2 linked regions of the Homo sapiens genome follow. The protein of the gene in region 1 interacts with the protein of each later gene in a pairwise test. Each region holds a gene or a part of one and is shown in the gene's direction. Other genes may lie near its edges.

Evidence for each region. Proteins that work in one complex are often made in the same cells at the same time.
Region 2: the proteins of ZG16 (region 1) and KCNIP3 interact in binary tests that used the Homo sapiens proteins (3 or more experiments, as listed by UniProt).

The regions. Positions count from the first base shown.
Region 1 is NC_000016.10:29,773,040-29,781,255, forward strand, and holds the start of ZG16 (zymogen granule membrane protein 16 precursor), read left to right. Parts: upstream 1-5,216; 5' UTR 5,217-5,267; intron 5,268-6,220; 5' UTR 6,221-6,227; coding exon 6,228-6,282; intron 6,283-6,465; coding exon 6,466-6,598; intron 6,599-7,064; coding exon 7,065-7,380; 3' UTR 7,381-8,216. UniProt on the Homo sapiens protein: May play a role in protein trafficking. May act as a linker molecule between the submembranous matrix on the luminal side of zymogen granule membrane (ZGM) and aggregated secretory proteins during granule formation in the TGN.
Region 2 is NC_000002.12:95,377,347-95,384,924, forward strand, and holds part of KCNIP3 (calsenilin), read left to right. Parts: intron 1-4,249; coding exon 4,250-4,357; intron 4,358-5,030; coding exon 5,031-5,135; intron 5,136-5,885; coding exon 5,886-5,948; intron 5,949-6,655; coding exon 6,656-6,703; 3' UTR 6,704-7,578. UniProt on the Homo sapiens protein: Calcium-dependent transcriptional repressor that binds to the DRE element of genes including PDYN and FOS. Affinity for DNA is reduced upon binding to calcium and enhanced by binding to magnesium. Seems to be involved in nociception.

The DNA.
Region 1 (8,216 bases):
CTATGCCCAGCTAATTTTTTTTTTTTTTTTGAGACGGAGTCTCGCTCTGTGGCCCAGGCTGGACTGCAATGGTGTGATCTCTGCTCACTGCAGCCTCTGCCTCCCGGGTTCAAGCGATTCTTCTGCCTCAGCCTCCCGAGTAGCTGGGATTACAGGCACCCGCTACCGTGCCCAGCTAATTTTTTTGTGTGTGTTTTTAGTAGAGATGGGGTTTCACCATTAGCCAGGATGGCCTTGATCTCCTGACCTCATGATCCGCCCGCCTCGGCCTCCCAAAGTGCTGGGATTACAGGCGTGAGCCACTGCGCCCGGCTATTTTTTTGAAACGGAGTTCTGCTTTTGTTGCCCAGGCTGGAGTGCAATGGTGCAATCTCGGCTCACTGCAACCTCCACTTCCCTGGTTCAAGCGATTCTCCTGCCTCAGCCTCCCAAGTAGCTGGGATTACATGCATGTGCCACAACACCTGGCTGATTTTTGTATTTTTTAGTAGAGACGGGGTTTCACCATGTTGGTCAGGCTGATCTCAAACTCCTGACCTCAAGTGATCCATCCGCCTCGGGCTCCCAAAGTGCTGGGATTACAGGTGTGTGAGCCACTGCACCTGGCCCCATTCATTTCCCCACAAAATCACATACTACCTCTCAACATTGCTGCACCCCCATTTCCCCTCCCCTGTGAAGAAGGCAGCTACATAAGCATCTGGACCACGTTGGGTTATTAGGTCATCGTTCTCCTGTGGTTTCCTTATGCTTGTACATGTGACATAAATTTTGTACACATTTTTCTCCTATTAATTTGCCAATTGTCAGTTCCTTTTTGGGGAGCCTTTATAGGGCTAGAGAGCAGAAAGGAAGCTTTCCCTTGGCCCTACAGCTCCTTGAGGTCGGCTGTTGACTCTTTTCTTCATTGCTGTCTCTTCAGCGTCTAGAATGGTACCTCCAATGTAGAGATGCTTGATAAACGTGTTGAGCCGGGCACAGTGGCTCACGCCTGTAATCCTAGCACTTTGGGAGGCTGAGGGTGGATCAAGAGGTCAGAGTTAGAAACAAGTCTGGCCAACATGGTGAAACCCTGTCTCTACTAAAAATACAAAAATTAGCAAGGCGTGGTGGTGGATGTCTGTAATCCCAGCTACTTGGGAGGCTGAGGCAGGAGAATCGCCTGAACCCGGGAGGTGGAAGTTGCAGTGAGCCAAGAAAGGGCAGCAGAGCAAGACCCCATCTTGAAAAAAAAAAAAAAAACAAGCAAACAAAAAACAAAAACAAACAAAAAAACATGTGTTGAGTTGCTTTCTGTTTAGTAGCAGAAAGCTCTGGAAGGGCTTTGGACATTCACGCGTGCAGGCCCGGGAACGGGATGAGGTTTAAGGCAACTTCATCTAGAGTTTAAAAGGGGCAGGTAGGCCCACAGCTGGCACGTGGGTTAAATGTAAAGTGGCTCAAACAGGATCTGATAAGGCAGAAGCAGAGATGGGGGCCTGGTGTCTCACTGCCTTCACGTTCTTCCTTCTGCCTCAGTCCCCACATGAGAGTGCACCCTAGAGGTGCCAGCATTAGCGATAGGGCAGCTTTCCTTGTTTCTGGGATGGACAGAAAATGGGCCTTGAGACCCCTCCCATCATAGGAAAGCATCTCTTGCACTCTGGAGACTGAGGACTTGCTATAGTGGAACAAGAAGCAGTCTTCGGCAATGGAGGAGATGCTGGATCTCCATACAGGCAGGGTGGGTGCAACGGAGTGGAGCTGTGGCAAATGTGGGTGCCTCTGTCCTGAGGGTCCTGGATGTGTCATGCCTGGGAACATGAGGGCGTTCTTCCAAGGTGCCCATCTCGACCTCTCTGAGCTGCCATCTTTGACTTCCTGTGTTTGGTCACAGACTAGGGGTGGTCTGTCCCTAAACAGAAGAAGACAAGCAAGGATTAGAGAGGAGAAAGAGCTAGAGAGAGAGCTTGGGAGAGATGTAGGGACAAGGAAAGAAGAGGCAGAAGGAAAAAGGCATGGAGGGAAGGAATATAAAAAAAAACCCCTTAGGCCAGGCATGGTGGCTCACGCCTGTAATTCCCGCACTTTGGGAGGCCAAGGTGGGTGGATCACCTGAGGTCATTTCAAGACCAGCCTGGCCAACATGGTGAAACCCCATCTTTACTAAAAATACAAAAATTAGCCAGGCATGGTGGTGGGTGCCTGTAATTCTAGCTACTCCGGAGGCTGAAGCAGGAGAATCGCTTGAACCCTGGAGGCAGAGGTTGCAGTAAGCTGAGATCAGGCCACTGCACTCCAGCCTGGGTGACAGAGCGAGAATCTATCTCAAAAAAAAAAAGAAAAAAGAAAAAAAGGCCGGGTGTGGTGGCTCACGCCTATAATCCTAGCACTTTGGGGGGCTGAGGAAGGTGGATCACAAGGTCAGGAGATTGAGACCATCCTGGCCAACATGGTGAAACCCCATCTCTAGTAAAATAGAAAAAATTATCTGGGTGTGGTGGTGCGCACCTGTAGTCCCAGCTACTCAGGAGGCTGAGGCAGGGGAATTGCTTGAACCCTGGAGGCAGAGGTTGAAGTGAGTCGAGATCGCGCCACTGCACTCCAGCCTGGCAACAGAGCAAGACTCCATCTAAAAAAAAAGAAAGAAAGAAAGAAAGAAAAATCCTCCCCAGAGCAGGGAAAGATGAAGACATAAAGGGAAGGAGAGTCACCAGGAAAGAGAGAGGGAGAGAGACACAAAACAAAATGGCTGGAATGAGGTGAAAGTTATAGTAGCAGGATGTGCTGACACTGACCTTGGAGAAAAAGAGAGGGGAAGGGAGGAGTGAACGTGGAATCTTTGGCTGCTGTTCTGTTTCACTCCCAGAACTCACCACCCTGGATTCCCCCCATTTCCAGATCCTCAGGCGGGACTGCCTTTGCTATCTGGGATGAGTCATTGGCCCCAGATGGTAAACCTGTGAGGGGTGGGGTGCTCTGAATGCCTGACTAGTCATTTATAATTGAGAGCACTTATTCCAGCCCCTTCTGGTCCTCCATCCTTCCCTCTTCTTGGACCTCCTGATTCAGAGAGGTCAGAGGGCCAGTCCAGGAGGGGTCAGGCACTAGGTCCCTGGAGTCAGTCTTAGGGATTTTAGGCAGAGAGGAATCAGTCCTGAAAATGAAGGGCATACAGAGAAAAAAAAAACTATGACATCACCCCTGGGGGTGTTACAGACCTAAGAAAGAAGCAATGGCCCTGGGCGGCCTACAGCCCCAGGAAGATTCAGCCATGGTACCCAGGAGACTTGAGGGCCCAAAGCCCAGAATTACCCCCAGAGGAACACCTGTAGACCTTCGGATCCTTAGCTTTGCACTTCCCATTGGACTGACTCTGTTTCCTGTGGGGCAATAGGCACGTGTTCACTGTGCACCTGCAGCCCCAGTCATCCTTCTCAGAGAGAAATGGTTTGGGAAGTGTTTGGCATATTGGGGATAAATAGATGAGTGGATAGAAAAAAAAATGCAGGCCAGGCACAGTGGCTCACGCCTGTAATCCCAGCACTTTGGGAGGCCGAGGTGGGCGGATCACGAGGTCAAGAGATCGAGACCATCCTGGCAAACATGGCGAAACCCTGTCTCTACTAAAATTACAAAAATTAGCTGGGCGTGGTGGCGCATGCCTGTAATCCCAGCTACTCGGGAGGCTGAGGCAGGAGAATCGCTTGAACCTGGGAAGCAGAGATTATAGTGAGCCGAGATCGCGCCACTGCCCTCCAGCCTGAGGGATAGAGCAAGACTGTGTCTCCAAAAAGAAGAAAGAAAAAAAAGCAATTACAGCAAAATATTAACCATAGTAGAATCTATACAGTGGTTATATAAGTGTCCACTATACAATTCTTTTTTTTTTTTTCCTTTTTTTGAGACTTGATGTTTCGATCATGGCTCACTGCAACTTTGACCTCCTCAGCTCAAGTGATCCTCTTGCCTCAGCCTCCTGACTAGCTGGGATCACAGGTGTGCACCACCATGCCTGGCTAATTGTTTTATTTTTTGTAGAGACGAGATCTCCCTATGTTGCCCATGTTGGTCCTGAACTCCTGAGCTTAAGCAGTCCTCCTGCTTTGACCTCTCAAAGTGCCGGGATTACAGGCATGAGCCACTGCACCCAGTCTTGCTATACGATTCTTTTGTTTTTTTTTTTTTTTTTTTTGAGATGGAGTCTCACTCTGTCGCCCAGGCTAGAGTGCAGTGGAGTGATCTCAGCTCACTGCAACCTCTGCCCCTCAGGTTCAAGTGATTCTCCTGCCTCAGTCTCCTGACTAGCTGGGATCACAGGCACCTGCCATCACACCCAGCTACTTTTTGTATTTTTAGTACAGATGGGGTTTCGCCATGTTGGCCAAGCTGGTCTCAAACTCCTGACCTCAGGTGATCCAGCTGCCTCAGCTTCCCAAAGTGTTGGATTATGGGTGTGAGCCACTGGGCCCAGCCACTGTACAATTCTTTAAACTTTTATATGTGTTTGGATTTTTCATAATATTAGAAAAGGGAAAGAAAAAAATGTCTGGCAAATAGTCAGCACTCGTAAGTATAAGATTTTGGGAATATATTCCCTTCTGGGAGAATCCACATTTCGAATGCCTGGGAAGGGCTCTGTTTGTCCTGACAGATGGCAGATTTCAGGTGAGAGCACCTACTAAGCCTAGAGGTGATAAGCTACTTTGCCCACCTAGAGCTGCTGGTGGTGACCTTAAGTTTACTATGTTTCTCCTGGTATACGGCACTTGGCCCAGAGTGGACTCCAGCTTGCCACCTGTCACCCAGGCTGGAGTGCAGTGGCGTGATCTTGTCTCACTGCAGCCTCAACGTCCTGGGCTCAGGCGATCTTCCCTACCTCCCTCCTGATTAGTTGAGGCTACAGGTGCTCGTCACCATGCCCGGCTAATTTTTGTTTTTGTTTTTTGTTTTGGTAGAGATGGGGTCTCACACTCTTGCCCAGGCTGAGCTAGAACTCCTGGCCTCAAGCGATCTGCCTCTGCCTCCCAAAGCATTGTAATGACAGGTGTGAGTCACCATGCCCAGCCAGGAACTCAGAGAATCTTACCCTATGCTGTAGTATCTGTTGACTATGGGGTAGAGGCAGGATAAGGTGTTCCAGACCCTGCCTGACACCTGATCCGAAGAGGTTGCTCATGTTTGCTCAGGAGGTGAGGTTCACACAATAAAGGGCAGGAGGAGGGCTTGGACCTGGTATAAAACATCTGGAAGTTTCCAGGGGGCTGCTTTGCATCTGAAACTGTCAGGTGAGGGGTGACAGAGATGCCTGAATCTGAGTTGGGGGGGAATTCAAATCTGAGCTGGCGAAGAGGATGCCTGGAAGGAATGGCAGGAAAGACTTGAGTTAATTGGCGCTTCTGGGTCTGCAGTAATCTTAGGTGCAAAGCTGTCTAGGTCTCTGCTGAAGGACTGGGGACACCTGGGATGTTCAGGAGAATAGAAATGGCCAGATGTGTGTTAGTGGAGAAAAGAATAGTGACACATAGACCAGGCACCTGGGGTCTAATATCTTGAGCTGGTCCCGACTCCTTCTGCAACTTCTCTGTCTGTCCTAGTTCCACCAGCACTGCTTGGATACTGGTGCTGGCACAGTTCCTTCTGTCACCAACTTTGCTCCCCAGGTAACATAGAGGCAACTCTAAAATGCTTCTTTCCTTGAGACCAGGTGGATGCCAGGGATTTAAACCATGCTCCAGGTGCCCCATAATCCAGGCCAATTCACCACAGATGATGAGGCTTTCTTTGCTCAGCCTCTGGGCTCAGTAAACTCAGCCATCTCTTTGCTTGGGAGAGGTCCTCTACTCCCTCCTTAGAAAACTCGTTTCCTGGCTATGGCCATACCAACCCAAATGTACCTGGGCTTGGCTGACTTCAGAAAACTTTTCTGCTTTGTGCCAGGATGGAATAAGGCTTAATCCAGATAGTTAGAGTTCATCTTCAGGCCTGAGAGAAAAAGAGGAGGGCTTGGCTACAGCCAGACCAGGGAGAGCTGGAGGGGTCAGGGACATTGAAGGTAGCATCAGAGAGGAACAGGACTACAGGCTATGGACAGTCCTTTCTAAGCTCAAGACTGGGTCTGCTAGGTCTAAGTTGAAGGACGAAGAAGGCTTGGTCTGAGCTGCAGGTCAGGAGTGCCTGGGTCAATCAAGTCAACAAGGAAGAAGGTGAATCTTCATTTGCTCTTTTCTTCCCACTCCAGCCCCAGAATGTTGACAGTCGCTCTCCTAGCCCTTCTCTGTGCCTCAGCCTCTGGCAATGCCAGTAAGTGAGATACCAGGAGCCTGGTATTGGGGACTTGGGAAGGCAGCCTTGGGCACTGCTGTTGGCCAAGGCTTTTGGAGGTTGGCTTGGGGTGGGGAGCTGAGTTGTCGGAGGAACAGGGGTGATGCAGAGAAACTGAACTCCTGGAAGATTTCTCCCTCCAACTCCTGCTTGCCCCTCCAGTTCAGGCCAGGTCTTCCTCCTATAGTGGAGAGTATGGAGGTGGTGGTGGAAAGCGATTCTCTCATTCTGGCAACCAGTTGGACGGCCCCATCACCGCCCTCCGGGTCCGAGTCAACACATACTACATCGTAGGGTAAGATTCTTTGAATTCCTGGCTGGGCGCGGTGGCTCACATCTGTCATTACAATGCTTTGGGAGGCAGAGGCAGATCGCTTGAGGCCAGGAGTTCTAGCTCAGCCTGGGCAAGATGCCAGGGATGCCAGGGATTTAAACCATGCTCCAGGTACCAAGACCCCATCTCTACCGAAGAAAAACAAAAAAATTAGCCAGGCATGGTGGTGAGTACCTGTAGCCTCAACTACTCAGGAGGGAGAGGCGGGAGGATTGCCTGAGCCCAGGATGTTGAGGCTGCAGTGAGCCAAGATCATGCCACTGCACTCCAGCCTGGGTGACAGAGTCTCTTTGTTGGCAAAATGAGTTGAAGTTCCCTGTAGGATCTTCCAGGGTTCACCCAGGCTTCACAGTCTGTAGGACTAGCCAGAGACCTCTCATCCCTATCATCACCTTTCTTTCTCCTTCCTTCCTCCCCTCTTCCTCAGTCTTCAGGTGCGCTATGGCAAGGTGTGGAGCGACTATGTGGGTGGTCGCAACGGAGACCTGGAGGAGATCTTTCTGCACCCTGGGGAATCAGTGATCCAGGTTTCTGGGAAGTACAAGTGGTACCTGAAGAAGCTGGTATTTGTGACAGACAAGGGCCGCTATCTGTCTTTTGGGAAAGACAGTGGCACAAGTTTCAATGCCGTCCCCTTGCACCCCAACACCGTGCTCCGCTTCATCAGTGGCCGGTCTGGTTCTCTCATCGATGCCATTGGCCTGCACTGGGATGTTTACCCCAGTAGCTGCAGCAGATGCTGAGCCTCCTCTCCTTGGCAGGGGCACTGTGATGAGGAGTAAGAACTCCCTTATCACTAACCCCCATCCAAATGGCTCAATAAAAAAAATATGGTTAAGGCTAGTCTGTGTGGGGGCATCTGTGGCTGGGATATCTGCCTCCTGACTTAGCCGGGGACGTGCAAATCTCACTTCTGGCTGGCTTTGGACATCTGTCTGGAAGATGGGAAGATGAGGGAGAGGTATGTAAGAATCCTGGGCTTTGTGCTATAATTTATCAAGAGGAGATGAGATTCTGGCTTGCATCAACGCTCTTCAAGGACAGCTCCTTGGAACATTGATCCAAACTGGAGTCATGGGTCTGAGGGCAAGGCCTAGTTGTGGCTTACACCAAAACCCCAGATGTCCCACTCTCCAGCTCTCCTCACCCCTGGTCCTCCCCTTGAGAAAGTGGTGAACTCACTTGCTGTGTGTGGGTGGCCAGGACCATTAGCCTTTGTTCTTTCCCAGAACCCACCTGACTCCTGAAACTTAGCTGAAGTCTGTGCCCGAGGACCCTGCCCTGTTACCAGGCCCAGTTCCTCCTCACCTCTACCCATGAGCCCCGGTGTCCTGCTAAGCCCTCTCAGATCTGGGATTCCTCCTTCCTCAGGAAGCCACCACCTTCTCAGCAGTGGAAACCCTGCCCACACTATGCTCTTAGGCTTTAGCCATCAGAAGGTTACAGTGGACTGCGGGAGGCTGACACTAGGCTGAACTCATTAAGGAATGAATGGGAGGTGAGAAGACACAGGCAGCAAGAATCGAGTGTTTCAAGAAGTTTGGCTGTGGTTTGCCAGAAATAGGCAAGTCAGTTTTCG
Region 2 (7,578 bases), on another chromosome or scaffold:
ACTGCTCCATGTGCCAGTGGCCAAGCGGCATCCAGGGCCGTGTGAGGGCAGCCTGCAAGCCCAGCAACCACATGCGACTCCCACCCCCTCGCTGAGCACCTGCTCCGGGCTCTGCCGGGAGACCCTCCTGTGCACTCTTGTGCACCTTCACCTGGAAGTATGCTGTGTCACTGGAGCCCTCACCCTGCCTAGCCCCTGCCATGGGGACAGCCGTAGAACAGAGGCTGTGGATGTGACAGGGTTCCTACACTTTGGCATTCAGAGCATGGAGTTACAACTTGCCATGGTTGCACTGTGTATGGCCAAGGAATTTAGAACCAGCGTGCACTCAGACATGGGCTGGCTGGACTTGGGGTCATCTGTGTATTACCTTTATGAATGGAGACTAGCCAGTGGCCTAACAGGACATTCCCACCATCTCCTAGTACTGTCACTACTGTAGCCAACACACAGAGAGAGGCTAAGGGATACTGCATAGGGACATTCCTCAGCTGCTAGCAGCAGGCTCTGTGGCTGAACATGAGGGCTTCTCCGCAGCAGACAGACAGACCACCTGAGGGGCCCATGTCAGCTGAAGATAAGGTGGAGGACAGCGGTGCCTGCCCAGGGTCCCCAGGAGAACGGTGTGCTCCACGCCTTTGCTACCCACTAGGAAGGCCTGTCTGACCCAGGGCTTCAGGGATAACTTAGAATCTTCACTACTGTGTAAACCATGCCCAAGCTTCAGTGATTATTATTCCCTAAACTTGGGCATAGTAGAAATATAACAATGTTTCTCCTTGTTTTTTAATTTTTATTTTTTTTGTTTTATTTTTAGACAGGCTGGAGTGCAGTGGCACCACCATAGCTCATTGCAGCCTCGACCTCCTGGCCTCAAGTGATCCTCCTACCCCAGCCTCCCGAGTACCTGGGACTGCGGGTGCATGCCACCATGCCCAGCTAATTTTTTTATTTTAATTGTTGTAGATGCAAGGTCTCACTATGTTGTCCAGGCTAGTCTTGAAATCCTGGCCTCAAGCAATTCTCCTGTCTCAGCCTCCCAAAGTGCTGGAATTGCAGGTGTGAGCCACCACACCTGGGTGTTGCTTCTTTAAAATATTTTCATTGGCCGGGCTCGGTGGCTCACGCCTGCAATCCCAGCACTTTGAGAGGCCAAGGCGGTCAGATCACCTGAGGTCAGGAGTTTGAGACAAGCCTGGCCAACATAGCGAAACCCCGTCTCTACTAAAAATACAAAAAAAAAAAAAAAATTAGCTGGGCATGGTGGCGGGTGCCTATAATTCCAGCTGCTTGGGAGGCTGAGGCAAGTGAATCACTTTGAGCCCAGGAGTCAGAGGTTGCAGTGAGCTGAGATTGCACCACTGTACTCCATCCAGCCTGGGTGACAGAGTGAGACTCAATCTCAAAAACAAAAACAAAATATATATATATATACACACACACACACACATATATATATATACACACACACACACATATATACACACATATTTATATACACATATATATACACATATATACACACACACACATATATATACACACACACACATATATATATATATATTCATTGTCTTCAGTTATACACACACATGACTGGAGTCCAACACATTCGCAGGGTGCACGTTGGAAAACCAGCAGGTGACCACCACCTTGTCTGCTGTAGCCAGTCACCTGTGCTTGTTTCCATGTCCCCCAGAAGCTTGCTTCCACTTTTCCACCCCCTGCCACAAGTGAGAATTTGGGACTCCCTCAGACATACAACGTTCCCGTCCCCCCAGCCCCCCACCCATCCCCCAGGAGGCTGAGGTGGGAGGATCGCTTGAGCCCAGGAGTTCAGCTTTCCAACAGACTCTAGGCTTCAGGTTGGATAAGGCCTTGGTTTACTCTGATTTGTGAACTGGACCCCTCGCTGAGGCTTGTTGTCCATTGCGATGATCTTTTCCTTTCCTTTGCCTACGGTTAACATTGGTCCTGATGATTAGTTTGTCTGTGTTCTGTGACCTCATTATTCATTCAAGCCCAGGCCCTTCTCCAGTCATCTGAACCTGTTGCCCGGCATCTGCCAGAGGAGGCCCCCCCACCAGCCTCCCACAGCTCCATCCTCGCTGGGGCCTGGTGCCTCTGGGGCTTCCTCCCCTGTCTGCTGGGCTGGGCCTTCTGGTTCTGGGATCCCTGATCTGCCTTTCTCTTGCTTTACTCTCTGTGTGTTCAGGGGCTTACTGCCCAGCTGCTTCCTATAAAAGAGGATGTGAGCTGTAACTTTGGAGCGTTTGAGCACCTGGGAGTGTCTTTATTCTGTTTTTACTCTTGCTTGATCCATTGTAGGGACCAGCACCCCCAGGGGGAGCTGTTCTCCTTCAAAGTTGGGGGTCGCTTCGTTCCCTGGGCCTCCTGCCTCAGGCGCTGCTGCAGAGCAGGTGCCCCTGCTGACACTGACCCGTGATGGGTCCCGATTTTGCTTTTTCTGTTTGGCTTTGCTTTCCTCTCTGAAAGTTTATAGGATCCTCTGCACCCAATTTGCTGAAATTTCACCATGATCTATGCTTGCAGCTAAACTGCAGGCTGTTTTCATGCATTGTGCCAAGCCTTGGTGGACACTGGAAATCTCTGCTTCCATTCTGGGAAATCGTCTTTCCTGATTGCTCCTACCCACTTTCCTCTGTTTTCTCCCGTTCTTCCCGAACTGCCTGTGTCCCAGCATTGGCCCCTCTGGAGTGCAACTCTCATTATCCTCTGTTCTCCCCTATATTCCAGCTATTTGCCTTCTCATTCCACTTCATGGAAGATTCCATTTGCTCTCCCAACCTTTCTTTTTAAGTCTGTCATTTTGCTTTCTTATTTTTAATTTCCAAGAGCTCTTTCTTTTTTCCAGTTACCTCTTTTTTGGGACATCCTATTCTTATTTTAGTGATGGAAGATTTGTAATCTCTGAACCTAATAGTTGTTGTCAAATTTTTTTCTCCTGGGATAATTTTTGTTCTTCCAAATCGCTTTCCTCTGTCTCTGTCTCTCTCATGGTACAGACTTCTTCCAGTCCCGAAAATCTAACACTTGAGGGGCCTCGGGGCCTTGGTGCATGGCCCTGTCCCTTGCACTCTGACCGTCCTCTGTCCCACTTCGCTGGTACAGCCCCTTTCTCACCCCTTTCTTTCAGAGTAGCCTGGGAGGACCCCAGGGTGCAGGGAGGGTTTCACCTTTAAACCTTCCAAGAGGTAGGGGGAAAACCTGCTTTCTACCAACTGCTGTAACAAAACAGTTGAAGTTGTCACATGGAAACCATTTAAACAGCCATATTCTGTCATATTAGTAGTAAAGTTTCCCATGCCAAAGGCGATGGCCACACACAGCATGTCATGACTCAAGAGTTGAGCACCAGGTTTGGGCGAGGTGGCCCTGGGATTACACCTGTAATCCCAGCACTTCTGAAGCCCAAGGTAGGAGGATTACTTGGGGCCAGGAGTTGGAGACCAGCCTGGACAACATAGCGAGACCCCATCTCTATAAGTATAAAATAAATTAGCCAGGCATGGATTATTCCGAGTGGTCCCAGCTACTCAGGAGGCTGAGGTGGAGGATCGCTTGAGCCTGGGAGTTTGGGACTGCAGTGAGCCATGATGGCGACTGGTGACAGTCTGAGACTCTGTCTCTAAAAACAACAACAAACAAAAAGCTGAGCATCATTCCTCTAGCTATTTAATCTGGAAGTTTTCAAGCACCTTTGCCATGCAGATGCTTGGCAGAATAAACATAGAGCACCTCCTTTATTAAAAGAGTACCCCAGGCGTCTCCAGCGGCAGCACTGCATTAAATGGGTCTAGGACACCATATATATTTGAATATCTTTCTCTGGCATCAGTATCAGCTACCATGCCACTCCTGCCACACATGCAGACACATGCGCATGCACTCACACAGGTTCACACACTCACACAGGTGCACACACAGGTGCACACCCTCACAGGTTCACACATACAGATGCACACCCTCACACAGGTGCACACCCTCACACAAGTTCTCACACAGGTGCACACCCTCACACAAGTTCACACACACAGGTGCACACCCGTGCATGCGCTCACACACGGGCACACACTCACCCTGTGCTGACCTGAATGGATGCCGTCAGTCTCTTAGGGAGGCTCTGTGCCTGTTGGAGGCGTGAATTTCAGTGGAAGCCACACAGCAACTGGAACTAGAACCTGGGCATTGATTGGATGTCACGCCCCACACTCTCCTTTCCCCATAGGACTTTGTGGTTGGCCTCTCCATCCTGCTGCGGGGCACAGTCCACGAGAAGCTCAAGTGGGCCTTTAATCTCTACGACATTAACAAGGATGGCTACATCACCAAAGAGGTAGTAGGGGGCTGGGGGCAGGGATTGTCCCCTCCTCCCCTCCTGCTGCTCCACCCCTCCCGCCGCTCTTCCTCTCCCTGCTCCTGCTGCCCACCTGTCTTCTCCCGCTGTCCATCCAGAGACTGGCCCCAGGGACAGCAGCCAGTGGGCTCTCCTCTCCTGGGCTCGGTCCTGGACACCCCGGTGTGGAGTGTGGGTTCAGGTACCCTGTACCACACATCTCGGTCCAGCTCAGCAAGTGTTCTCGGTCATACTGTCTTACACAAAAGGCCTCGGGGAGATTTAAGTGGAGAAGCCAGAGGTCCTGGCCTTGGCCCCCATCAAGTGAAGGGGGCAGTGCGGTCCCTTAAGGCATGGGTGGAGAGGGGAGCCCTCGCACATGGGCCCACAGACAGGTTTTGTTTGGTCCAAGCACTTTTTCTGCTGCCGCGTCACATTTTGGAGATAAGCACATAGCAATCCATCTCCCACTTCTCTGGGAGATGAGCTTCCCCTAGAGTCAGAAGCTCGCTCTGGGTGCCCTGGAAGCGGACAGGCTTCTCTCTCCAGCTCGTCCGGCCCCTCGCACTCACTGCCTTGGAGGTGCCCTGCACCCTTGGATGCCGCCCGCTCCCTTTGGGCCCTCACAGCCACCCCGGCCTTGCAGCAGGCTCATGCCAGCCTCCCCCTCCAGGAGATGCTGGCCATCATGAAGTCCATCTATGACATGATGGGCCGCCACACCTACCCCATCCTGCGGGAGGACGCGCCGGCGGAGCACGTGGAGAGGTTCTTCGAGGTGAGCGAGCGCCAGCCCTGCCTAGGGAGGGGAGCCTGGCAGAGGAAGGGGCTCTCGCTTTTGGGGCCACCCCGGGCAAGTGGCTTGCCCCTCTGAGCCTCCCTACTCCCCATGAGGAGGTTAAACTTGCCCCTCCAGTCTGGCTGGTTGTCAGAACCCCTGAGAAGTGAACTACACCACTGCTCTGCCCTGTGGACCTCATCTGGGGGCCAGAGCTGGGGATCCTGAGGCAGCTGACCCTGGGCCGGAGCTCCATGCCTCCTGAGAGCTGTGTGGCTCCTCCAGGAAGACGCTCTGGGAGAGGAGCAGGTTGGGGGCCTTCACCTGTATGCATGGCGGCTGCAGGGGCTGCAGGCTTTGCCTCCTACTTGCTGGGGCCACTAGACATGGGCCATCCTGTGACTCAGTTGCTCCCTCTGCCCTGGCTGCCTCTCAGGGAGGTGAGGCGGTCAGATGAGCATGGGGACAAATTCTGGGAAACCCAAGCCCAGGAGGGCTCAGGGAATTGGCCTAGGGGAGCAGTGGGGAGATGCTTGGAGCCTCAGCAGTTGGTTGGGAGGTGGCTATGAAGGGTGGATTATGTGGCCTGGATCCAGAGTAGTCACAGGGGACAAGTTAGAGTGGAGGGAGCCCACCCGCCCATCCACCCACCCGCCCATCCACCCACCCATGACTTCTGCGTCCTCAGGCCAGGGGCGGGGCTGTCTCTGCTGGGGCACAGACTCACTTTGGGCATGGCTTGGGTTGCAGAAAATGGACCGGAACCAGGATGGGGTAGTGACCATTGAAGAGTTCCTGGAGGCCTGTCAGAAGGTAGGTGGCACGGGAGGCTGGGCCACAGTTCTCTGCAGGCTCTACACGGAGGTGGGTGGTTGGCAGCGTCTGCCCCTTCCCTCACCCCAGTCCCACCCCTGCCAGTCCAGGATGTGGCAGCTGTCCTTGGCCCCTTGCCACCTCCTGGACAGCCCCAAGCTCCACTTGCCCTCTTGTCTGAGTCTCCTCCTCCCCACCCACCCCTGCAGCCCACAGCATCCCCCCACTACCCCCACACCCTCCCTCAGCCCAGTCCCTGGAGAACCTCAAGTTAGGGGCAGACATGGGGCCAGCCAGAGGGAGAGGGTCACCGTGGGGAGGCACCAGAGCTTCCGCAGTGTTGCTGCTGGCCCTTCCAGAGAGCACCTCAGGGGGCAGGATGCTGGGCCTCCAGCGCCTCTATTGCCCCACTCCCAGAGCAGTCCTGGTTAGCGCCCACCTCCTCTGGAGGCCAGCCGGGATCGCCTTCATCAGCTCATCCCAGATGGGCTTGCAGTCAGGAGTGGGGTTGAAGACAGGCTGTGCCTCACCAGCTGGGGACCTCGGACCAGCTACTTCACCTCCCTGTCCCCCAGCTCCCTGCACCCAATAAGACAGACAGACAGGCAGTCGCTGCAGGCTCCGAGTCCCTGGCGGGAATCTGCTCAAGGGGGTCGGATTTGGAGCCCACCCAGCACCTGAAGGCCTCCCTTCCTCTCTCCATGCAGGATGAGAACATCATGAGCTCCATGCAGCTGTTTGAGAATGTCATCTAGGACACGTCCAAAGGAGTGCATGGCCACAGCCACCTCCACCCCCAAGAAACCTCCATCCTGCCAGGAGCAGCCTCCAAGAAACTTTTAAAAAATAGATTTGCAAAAAGTGAACAGATTGCTACACACACACACACACACACACACACACACACACACAGCCATTCATCTGGGCTGGCAGAGGGGACAGAGTTCAGGGAGGGGCTGAGTCTGGCTAGGGGCCGAGTCCAGGAGCCCCAGCCAGCCCTTCCCAGGCCAGCGAGGCGAGGCTGCCTCTGGGTGAGTGGCTGACAGAGCAGGTCTGCAGGCCACCAGCTGCTGGATGTCACCAAGAAGGGGCTCGAGTGCCCCTGCAGGGGAGGGTCCAATCTCCGGTGTGAGCCCACCTCGTCCCGTTCTCCATTCTGCTTTCTTGCCACACAGTGGGCCGGCCCCAGGCTCCCCTGGTCTCCTCCCCGTAGCCACTCTCTGCCCACTACCTATGCTTCTAGAAAGCCCCTCACCTCAGGACCCCAGAGGGACCAGCTGGGGGGCAGGGGGGAGAGGGGGTAATGGAGGCCAAGCCTGCAGCTTTCTGGAAATTCTTCCCTGGGGGTCCCAGGATCCCCTGCTACTCCACTGACCTGGAAGAGCTGGGTACCAGGCCACCCACTGTGGGGCAAGCCTGAGTGGTGAGGGGCCACTGGGCCCCATTCTCCCTCCATGGCAGGAAGGCGGGGGATTTCAAGTTTAGGGATTGGGTCGTGGTGGAGAATCTGAGGGCACTCTCTGCCAGCTCCACAGGGTGGGATGAGCCTCTCCTTGCCCCAGTCCTGGTTCAGTGGGAATGCAGTGGGTGGGGCTGTACACACCCTCCAGCACAGACTGTTCCCTCCAAG